2 separate regions of the Homo sapiens genome follow, and region 1 is linked to region 2. A link means that fine-mapping ties the variant in region 2 to the expression of a gene that starts in the linked region. Tissue or cell type: tibial artery. Region 2 holds a variant in brackets; the other region holds the start of a gene. All regions are shown on one strand. Distances are between the middles of the regions. Region 1 holds the start of SEMA3C (semaphorin 3C). Region 2 overlaps SEMA3C (semaphorin 3C).

Evidence for each region.
Region 1: SEMA3C starts here. The variant in region 2 is fine-mapped to the expression of SEMA3C in tibial artery (GTEx, PIP above 0.99).

Annotation. Positions count from the first base shown.
Region 1 is chr7:80,916,963-80,922,351 of GRCh38, reverse strand. SEMA3C (semaphorin 3C) reads left to right here and starts at 3,301. Exons shown (of 18, transcript NM_006379.5): 1 at 3,301-3,524. RefSeq lists a silencer at 3,035-3,164 and an enhancer at 3,712-3,781.
Region 2 is chr7:80,880,169-80,885,557 of GRCh38, reverse strand. The region is part of intron 2 of SEMA3C (semaphorin 3C); the gene reads left to right. Among named protein-coding and RNA genes, the nearest start is that of SEMA3C, 36 kb to the left of the region's middle. RefSeq lists an enhancer at 1,062-2,261. The variant A/T (reference allele first, on the strand shown) is at 2,216.

The sequences.
Region 1 (5,389 bases), 37 kb before region 2:
GGAAACTTAAAAGGATGGCATATGGAAGTTGAGTGAAGGAGAAAGAGAGGGAAGTAGAAAAGAGGAGAAAAATGTTAAGCAAAAAAGGTAAGAGGAAGTATTGAAACTTATTGAAAAACCTGAGACATTACGGCAATCACGCTTGAGTTTCTCTTCCTATTCTGATATTTACTACCCATTTGACTTTGGGCAAACCTTCAACGTTCTCTCATTGAAAATTGTAACTTCATTAAAGAATGCTATGCAGATAATAAGCAAAGTACCTCGCAAATACACAATCTATTTTCTATTACAAATATCAGTTTTTATGACTAAATAATAAGACAATTTTTAACCTCTGAATGATTAATATTCTCTGGTTAGGGTAAAGTTTATTTACATGACTCATCTGTATAATAGGGAAAAATCTGTTTTCTTTAAATTTGAAATAAGATAATGTATAGCTGCAGAAACTCCTGGAGAAAAGTATGTAACTCAACATCGGTGCTAGAGTTTTAAGTTAAATAGCATTCCTCAGGACCATCAAAAACATAAAATATTAAAAATATGCCCACTACACCTTGGCAGGCAGAGACACTTCAGTGTGTAAGATACTGCACCATTTCTAAAACGTCTTAATAAAAGTTATCCTAAGTATTTTAGTTTGGCCGCTCGTCTGAAACGTTTTGCTGGGTGCAAACATTGTAATTAGTGCTCTCTAAATTTAGTTGTGCCACTACTCCTGTAGATCCATTTAGTGTCCCCCTTACCGAAAACAGCGTTCTCAATTAGCTGTTGTTTTCCACTTGTAAGGACAGTCAAAGCTGAAGTCTTAAAAAAGTGGTAGTGCCCAGAAATGTTTCTTAGGCAAGTCTTGTTTTGTCAAGGTGTTTTAAGCAGTGTGGGGAAATGTGGGCAGAGATTAATCTTAGGGGCTTCTAGTGCCACTGTTAAAATTCCACTCTGTGGCCTAAGTCTCTGGCAAGCATGAGCACTGTGTCCTTGCGCTTGAATCTATCTTGGCTAAAGCCTATCAGTATTTTTATGATTCATTTTGAGGTGTGGCCAACTGTAAACGTCTCAGAGCTAAGCAAATACCATTAAATCCCAGGAGCACATTGAAAAGAGGTTTATTTGAGCAATATTGAGGGAATTTCGGCACAAATTTCATGGGCTGTGATTAAATCTAAGCTATTTGTCAAGGCCTCCAAACCCCTGAATGTGTAACAGATTGAGCTAATTCATTGGTGTTTGTAAATTGAGTTTGGAATTAAGCTCCTTTGTAAATACACCGTTTGAGATGCATTTCATCTTGCAACTCTTTATCGTGGTTTTCTCAAACTTAAAATGTATAAACGAATTCCATCTTACGTGAATTTGCTGATCAATTTCTAACAGCTCCACATTTCTAAATTAATTTAATCCACACACTCATCTTTCTAATGATTTATTCTTCTCCCTGCTTAATATATAAATGCCGAATGAGATATCAGAAGGAGGATAATAGTGGAGAGTATATAACCTGGATCTTACTCAGTTTCAGAAGTATTTCAGAGAAGCACGCACAGTGCTTATTCACATTGACATCTGGATTTTAATATTGTCAGTTTTTGGGGGGTTAAATTCCTTATTACAAATTTATGTCAAGGATCTTCTCACGCATCATCACAAAAAATAATTTTAACTGTTGTTACTATATTAATTTTTTGACGTTTGGAGATAATATTAGCCCTGGAATAGTATTTTTGAACTCATAAATTTGCATTATTTGACTTGATCCTTCGTTCCTTGACTATGCAGCGTGAGTCTGAGACACGTGTATGTTTACTGAACACAAGAGGTGGGCCCCAGACACATGAAAGATGTGTCTCACTCACCTCTTCCTCCTACCTGAGATTTCATTCAACTTTCCCACTGAACAATGATTTTGCACCCCCAGAGGGGTTTTCTATGATACAGTTTATAAGAATTTAATGATTGTTTCATTATGTGAATTGTCAGGTATAAGGTGGAGATATTACACTCCACGTTCCTTCTGTAGAGTGACATCTGCTGGGCTGTGCCCCACAGTGATTTTAAGCAAGTGCCTGCTTGTTTTATGGGGATCAAAGCTCATTTCTCCCGATGTTTAAACATCTAGTTTATTGTGGTCCGGAGAAGTAATTTTCACTTAAACATCAAAGTCAGTTCCAGAGTTTAACGAGTGTACCTGAAAGTAATGCTGGAAAAATACCTCTGATGTATTTCTGTAGATGTGTGGTTATGGCAATCTGTTGGCATAACTCAGAACAGCCTCTCCACATAGAATTGTCAAATAATTTCTTCGTGTAATTATGTTTGGGAGTATGGTTGGGGACAACGTACTGGATATGAGTCAACGTGGAGGGGTCAACAGAATTACTGCTTTCAGGGCATTAAGGAAACTCAATAGGAAACAATACCCATTAAAAGGATACACTTGTGCAACAAGATTGTCGTTTATCTTGACCTGTTTTAGAAAACACGCAACAGAGGCCCGGCGCGGTGGCTCTCGGCACTTTGGGCGGCTGAGGCGGGCGGACCATTAGGTCAAGAGATCCAGACCATCCTGGCCCTGTCTCTACTAAAAATACAAAAATTAGCTGGGCGTGGTGGTGGGAGCCTGTAGTCCCAGCTATTCAGGAGGCTGAGGCAGGAGAATCGCTTGAACCCGGGAGGCGGAGGTTGCAGTGAGCCATGATCACACCACTGCACTGCACTCCAGCCTGGCGACAGAGTGAGATTCCCTCTCCAAAAACAAAACAAAAAACAAAAAACAAAAAACAAAAAAAAAACGCAGCAGAATAAGGACAAAACTCACGTCCTTTTAAAAACGCATCTCTTTGCCTTAAAAGGCTGCAGTGATCCTTCCCTGGCAAAAATAAAAAACCACAACTGCTTTGCACTTTGATATTTACGGCCAGGCAAAGCCTGTGTAAGTCTTCGAGAGCCGCCGGCAACAAAAACCGTGGAGCGCACCCAGCAAGTTGCTCACTCCGCCGCGGACTGCGAAAGGAGCAGGGTTGCGGAGCTAGGGCTCCAGCCTGCGGCCGCGCATTCTTGCGTCTGGCCAGCCGCGAGCTCTAAGGGTCGGCCCCGCCCGGTCCGCCCCCGCGGCTCCCTGCCAGGCTCTCGCGGGCGCGCTCGGGGTGGGGCCTCGCGGCTGGCGGAGATGCGGCCGGGGCTGCGCGGTGGTGATGCGAGCCTGCAGGGCGGCGCGCCGGGGCAGCCGGAGCCGCGCGCCGCGGCGCTGTAATCGGACACCAAGAGCGCTCGCCCCCGGCCTCCGGCCACTTTCCATTCACTCCGAGGTGCTTGATTGAGCGACGCGGAGAAGAGCTCCGGGTGCCGCGGCACTGCAGCGCTGAGATTCCTTTACAAAGAAACTCAGAGGACCGGGAAGAAAGAATTTCACCTTTGCGACGTGCTAGAAAATAAGGTCGTCTGGGAAAAGGACTGGAGACACAAGCGCATCCAACCCCGGTAGCAAACTGATGACTTTTCCGTGCTGATTTCTTTCAACCTCGGTAAGCTAAATTGGTCATTTTCCGCATTACAGATTTAGCAAAGTATAACTTTTTTGGCCTGTATATTGATTTTTCATACATTGGTATGCTCAAGCCTGGACATTTTCTTAAGAACACACGCGGTTTGTCAGGGAAGCTTTCCCCTTGCTGAGAGCCCTGCTCGAGTTGTTTCTTTAGGCGGTGACACCTGCGGAGAGTTTCAAGTTGAGTATTACAGTGCCTTCAAAGGCAAAATTGCTCCAGAGGAGATAAGAGAATTCTTTTCTTAATGTGTTGTTAGTTTGCGATCAGCAGAAGTGAAAACACCAAGAGGAACGTCTGTGTCTGAGTTAAAGGGAAGAAGTTGTAAGATACTGTTGGGGAGGCGGGGGTGTATTTAAGACACTTGGCTTTCAGTCTTTCACTCCTCATCACTAGGTGGGATGTAAATCAAATTGCCCTGTAGACTATCTTCGTTTCACCTGCCATTGTATCACCAGTATTCTTTGCAATTGGTTGTATATGTACTTTTGGGAGAAACATATAAGGTAAGATACCAATATGTAAAAAAAATGTGTAAATAATATCAACTTGCTCAGTAAACATAACAAAGGTTAGGCATATTAATAGTTTTTTTCTTTTGGCTTTAACTATGAAGTCAACAGAACCAAGGGGTAAATTACTGAGGGAAAGTCACCCATAAAATCAGTTTCTTTCTAAGTTAATTTAGGGATGACAGGGTGAAGAGGTTGTGGAAGCAGGAAGAAACTGTTTCTTTTGAAAATTACCAACACAAACATCTCTAGAGTTTCCTCCATCTGTGTGGTAAAAGAAGCGTACAATTTCATTTCTAACTCTCATAACATATGCACCACCTAGGAAATCTACTTACAATTTTTGTTTAAAATTGCATATTCCATTTAATTCTTTTTATTCTGTATTAATGAAGCTGTCTTTTTCAGTTGTTAGTGGTTCTTACAAAGAATTTAATAATTTTGACTATGAAATTTTAATTTGAAAAGCCAAATAATGAAGATCAGCATTGTTGTAACCTGTAAAAATAAATTTCTTTACTGGACTCTTGGGTCACTTTATTGTGTAATTATGGTAGAAGCAAAATGATTGTGTTTCTTTAATGGTCCTGAGTTTATTTTACATGATGTAGCCACTAGAGCTCCTGTAGGTTTATGGTAACACATTATCTGGTCTTCCTTGGGATTCAGATATTAGTTAATAGCATGTACCAATTTTATATCTATAGTTTGAAGCAGTGACACCTGTCTCTTTGATTTATCTTTGGGAATTTTGACAGCCCACATTCTGGTTGATTTATTTAAAATATGCATTGGTGGATACATGGCTCACTGGATTGCTCACCACTAGGTCATTGGTTTGAATTTGGCACTAGTCCATGGTTACTTCAACTGCATCATTTAACAACTGCCTGTTGGTCATCTGGATAAAATGGCAGATAACTGATTCCAGTGACTTCAGTGATCCAGGATTGAGCACACATAGATTTATGTAAGGAAACACCACTTCCAGAGACAATTACTCCAAAAGAGCTAATGACTATTGAAGTGAGTAGGTACACATGAATGCTCATGTGAGATTTTGCTGCTGCTGTTACGTTAGTGGGGGGAAAGAGTTCTCATCCAGTAATATTCTTTTAGCTCAATTCTATTCAAGTCTTTTTAATGTAATGGATTTCTAGAGAGAAGATCCGTTAAAATATTGGGCTTTCCTTTGGGTATCAGTGTTTTTCTTCACTGCTTTGTTCTGTTTTGATGGTAGCATCAATTTGCTGGAAGATGAAAGTTTCTCTTGTTGCAAAGACTTCCAGACACAAATGAATCAAATCCACATTTTCACATCTGAGAAGCAAA
Region 2 (5,389 bases):
GCAGTCTCTACTTTGTGGGCTCAAAGGATCCTCACACCTCAGCCTCCCAAGTAGCTGGGACTATGGGCATGCACCACCATGCCTGGCTAATTTTTTCATTTCTTTGTAGAGATGGGGTTTGTCATGTTGGTTAGGCAGGTCTTGAACTCCTGAGCTCAAGCAGTCCGCCCACCTCAGCCTCCCAAAGTGCTAGGATTACAGGTGTAAGCCACCAAGCCCAGTCATCCAGGTTTTTTAAGAAGGCAAAAACTATTCCTTAAACAATTTACCTAGGGATAAAAGAGGGGGAAAATGTAGAGAAGAGCTATCTTCCAAATGTCTGAAAACAAACAAACAAAAAAAGGTATTAGATTTCAGACATCAGGTGATACTCTGCTTCAGAAACAATATATTGGGAAAAATCCTGAGTTGCAAAACTATTAAACCAGTTAACACGTTTAATTATAAGAATTGTCTTTCTTGTCTCATTCTAAAGAGAAATGTCATCACAAAACGATAATCTTATGAAAGCTTTCAAGTACAAGGATTTCATAAAAAGAATGAATTCTACTCAACAGTAAAATATTTTGCTTGTACTTTGTGGGAACCAAATATTTTTAGAAGATTTTTTAAGAGCATCTAATCTGTATTTTTAAAATGCCGGTACTGGCCTTAATGTTTATTATTCTCCAGTTCTTTACACAGTGTTCCTACACCGTCAACATATTATCACAACCTGGTTTTTGATTTGTTATCACAATCTTGTGACCTTTAAGCAGAAATTTATGGTGTACATCAAAGCAGTAATAAACACATAAAGAAATTCTTCTACAAAGAAACAGTCACTTTACTATTTCTGCTGAACATGTGTTTAGAGTTTACATCTTGGTTACCTTGCACTAGCTTCCATGGCAGACAAAGCCGTTGTTTGTATGAGAGTGAACTGCTTACATTCTCGCATCAACACTTTCCCTCAAAAGCTGAAGTTTCCCTCTGCTTGCCTCTTCTGTTTAGACTGATGGAAAATATTTGCTACTTATCTTCACTACAGAATTGTCAATACAGAAGTCTGTAAAAAGTTTCATTAATTTATTCATCCTTTTGAATCATAGGAGTCTTTTAAAAAAATCGGATATATTTACAGAGTATCTAATGTTTGATAAGTTAGTTATGAGGGTCTCACATTTTTGTAGCGGTTAGGAAGAGACAATGTAGTTAAAAGTCCTCTATGTTAGAGTCAAGAAACTTGTTCTTGATGCTTTCACTAAGAGACTCATGATTTTGGACTAATCTCAATTTTGAGATTACCTATAAAATGTGGAAATTCAGATGGATAGTTATGTCTTAAATATTTCACATCTTTTAGGAGAAACAAGTTGATTGTATGAGATTTCATTTACATCTGTCTGCATATAAAATCGGGTAAATTTCTTGGGCTTTCACTTTTTTTATAACAATAAAATGAAAATGAGCTTATTAATAGATTAGAATTAAAATTCAAAACTAATGCAATTCAAAGAAAATGTACCATGTTAACAAGTATTTTTGCCAAAATGGAATTTCTGCTCATAAAGTGGCCATGACAGTGACTTAAACCCTAGATGTTAGGAAACGACCTCTTGGATTTATCACAGTGCCTCACTCTTAGTTCAGACTCTTAAAAACATTTCTTGTGGGAAGTAATGACTGCTAAGTAAAAATGAAAGTTGAGCAATGATTCTTGTGAATTATGAGTTAATTAATGGTATGACTGCATTTTGTTGAAGTCTCATGATTTAAAGATGTGCTCATTTTTTTTGCTCATGATTTAAAGATGTGCTTTGATACTCTGAAGGACCAAAGGGCAGTGAATCACTGTAAAGCTGCTTTTGAAACATGCCTTAGGGCAAATTGTGAGCCTTCATTTGTGTCCAGAATGGAAGGAACAGCAAGAAGCATGGGTGAGTCATAGGACAAAAACACAAAATGTCATTCCAAAGACAGGGTGGTGACCTTATGTCTGAGTATGCAAAAATCCAACTGGGGAAGTAAGAGGCCTGATCTTAAAAGTTCATGTATTAAGGGAAAACCCATACTTTTATCTTAGGAGATTATGATTATATAATTAGTTTTGTTTGATAATTCAGATGAGTTACCTCTGATTCAGTTTGAAAGTATCCCAGATCAAGCACAGTTCAAACACAGACACTCCTGGGACTGGTTCTGCTTTTTGTGATTGGAATAAGGGGTCCTGCTA[A/T]GGTGTGTGCTTCTGTCCTCAGATTTGGAACAGAATCTAAATTCCATGTGTGACGTAACCTGCTTAGTCACAAGCAACATTTTCAGACCCCTTTCCTTTAATTTTAGAAGGAGGCTGTTGATTTGGTATAATTATTTGTTAATGAATGCATTTTGTGTTCATTGCTAAGTATAAAAAAAGCACATATAGGATAGCTTGTGGCGTATTAACAAATGCTTGAGAGATAAAATATAAAGGTATATAACAGTAAAACATGAAAGAAGTCATTCAAAGCAATTTACCTAATGAAAGAGAGAGAACGTGTTTCCTCAGAGATTCAGGTGTATCTCATGGCATCCTCTTTTGTATCTTTCAGGTGTATTTACCTTTAGTTTGTTGTTGTTGTTGTTGTTGTTGTTATATAAGAGGGTTTAGGTAAATGTCACTTTCTGATAGGAGCCTCCTCATCAGGACCTTTTCTTTTTTAAATTTTCATATGTCTATTTTTATGTGAAAACTGTCCAAATAAAATATTTATATATAAAAGTTTTCCACATAACTCTAAAAGGGTTCTATTTGATGTCTTTACTGTATTATAGGACTTACAAAAAGAAAAGAAAAAGAATATATCCAATTAAAACAAGAAAGAACTCTTGAACCCAGCTATGCATACAAGAAAAATAAATTGTTTGAAGTGAGACATGAGGTAATCGAGACTCCTCAATGGGGAAAGTCAGTGCTCATCTGGCCCCTAGTGTGCCTGTTGAGCTGAAATATTTTATTGATGTGAGTGCTTAACAAATCACCAAATGCTCAGTGAATACCTATTATGTGTCATGAGCTCTATGAGGTAGCTTTTTTTCATACAGTCGTATTTTGGCAAATAAATAAATAATACGAGGCATAATTGACAGTGAAAATACCAAAAAAAAAAAAAAAAAAAAAAAAAAAGCATCCCTTACAAATTCCAGAATGTATTTTGAGGTTTCACTCAGCGCTATACAGTGATCACAAACTCCTTGCTATGGTTTAGTCTCTAAGAAAATAAAAATGCCAGAAGGTGTGTTACATTTCAGGCCAATAAAACAGACATTATTAACATCTCATTTTATTAATTGAGGTTGAGATTTTGTGTGGAGGCATTTTAGTGGTCTGATCCACACAGTATTGAGTCAGTGGCATTTTGAGAATGAGGTGTAGTGATTTGTGCTACATTTATAGTGACCAATAAGCTGTGATTGTAGTTCTTTTATATGCTGATGGTAAAATTTGTACTTCGTGGATGGACAGTGAAGGAACGTGGGCACTTCTTGTGTGCGCAAATACTTCTATATGCAACATCTTTCCTTCACTTGAGATATTTATGTTTTATTTAAATATAATACATTCAAAATATTTATTATTAAATCAACAACGTTGCATGAGTAGTTTATTTTGTGTTTTGTCCCCCAATAGATGATACTTGTATCCATACGTGGATAAACCTCCTCAGCCTTTTATGACACTCAGCAAGCTTTCTCTATCACAACAAATTTTATGTGGCTTGATATTTTCCCCCTCACACTGTCTTCATATTAATGCACTGCCTGTTTAGAGGCCCTACTAATGGGTTATCTCCATAAGGAACAATATGAATCTAATTCTCTAACCTTACTTCAACTCATTGCTGCTGCTGCTATGAAGCCAATTGTAAGCACAGTTAATTGTTCCCATGATTACTAAGACAAATATCACATGTAGGAGAGGTTTGATTTTCCATATTACAAAAGATAAGCTCTGGGAGAATTCAGCATTCAGTTTCCTAATCACTTACACATGTAAAATCACTTACACCCCTCCAGTGATGCCAGAAATTGTTCATTATTTCTTGTAAGTATTGTATAAAACTCAGAGTGCACTCAGAGGAAGTATCAATTCTGTTTTCTTAGAAACTAGTGTTGCTATGTTAGTGATAAAAAACAAAATGACTTCACCATAAAACACATTGCAAATTTCCATATAACTTACAGGTTATTTTCAGGTATATGAAAATGACAAAAAACCAGCTAAGAGACTATAAGTAGAACAATATTTGAGATTCATTTGGAAGAATAATCTTATTGGTCTTATTGACTTCTTGGTTAAAATGATTGAAAAACTTTACATGAGAGAGAGTGTGTGTGTGTGTGTGTGTGTGTGTGTGTGTGTGTGTGTGTGTGTTTCTTTCTCCAGGCAACAAAAGTAACAGGCATGAATTTTTTTGGTAGAAGATCATTCTTTATCAGAAACAACATCGTACATCCTTGCAATTAAATTAACTTCAGTAGATTATCATCAGAATTGTAATTTTATAAGAATAATTGTGATGGAATATTTGCAATGTAAGAGACTCCCTTAAAGGGTATGATGAGGTATTTCTTTCTGCGATCCGATTTACTTCTGTTTTTGTTTTTGTTTTTTGAGACAGAGTGTCTCTCTGTCACCCAGGCTGGAATGCAGTGATGTGATCTCAGCTCACTGCAGCCTTCACCTCCAGGATTTAAGCGATTCTTCTGTCTCAGCCTCCTGAGTAGCTGGGACTACAGGCACCTGTCAGCACGCCCGGCTAATTTTTGTGTTTTTAGTAGAGATGGGGTTTCACCATGGTGGCCAGGCTGATCTGGAACTCTTGAACTCAAGTGGTCTGCCTGCCTTGGGCTCCCAAAGTACTGGGATTACAGGCGTGAGCCACCACTCCCAGCCTGTGATTTGCTTTTGGGTAAGATTATGGCGTATACATGGAGGGAAGTAAAAGTGAACACATTTCAGTTGCATTTCCCCCCAGGCATAGATATTTTGAAAAATTTCTGTAAATTGTCCAACATGTATTTCTAAGATAAGCAACCACTATGATTTTTAAACATAGTGAGAATCACCACAGCATCAAATTCATTCATTCATTTAACAGATACTTAGCACTATGTGCCAGATACTGAGTTAGAGACTCAGAATACATCTTTGAACAGAACAAGTACTTGTACTATAGTGAATCTTATATTCTTGTGGAAGGAGACAGATAAAAAACACTAAACATGATGAATAAATTATTCACTATCTTAAACAATGATAGGTACTGTGGACAAGAAAACACAGAGTAGGTTAATGGTGTTCTGCAAGGATGGGGAAAGGGCAGACTGTGGTATTAAATGGTAGTCAGGGTTCGCCTCCTGGAGATGT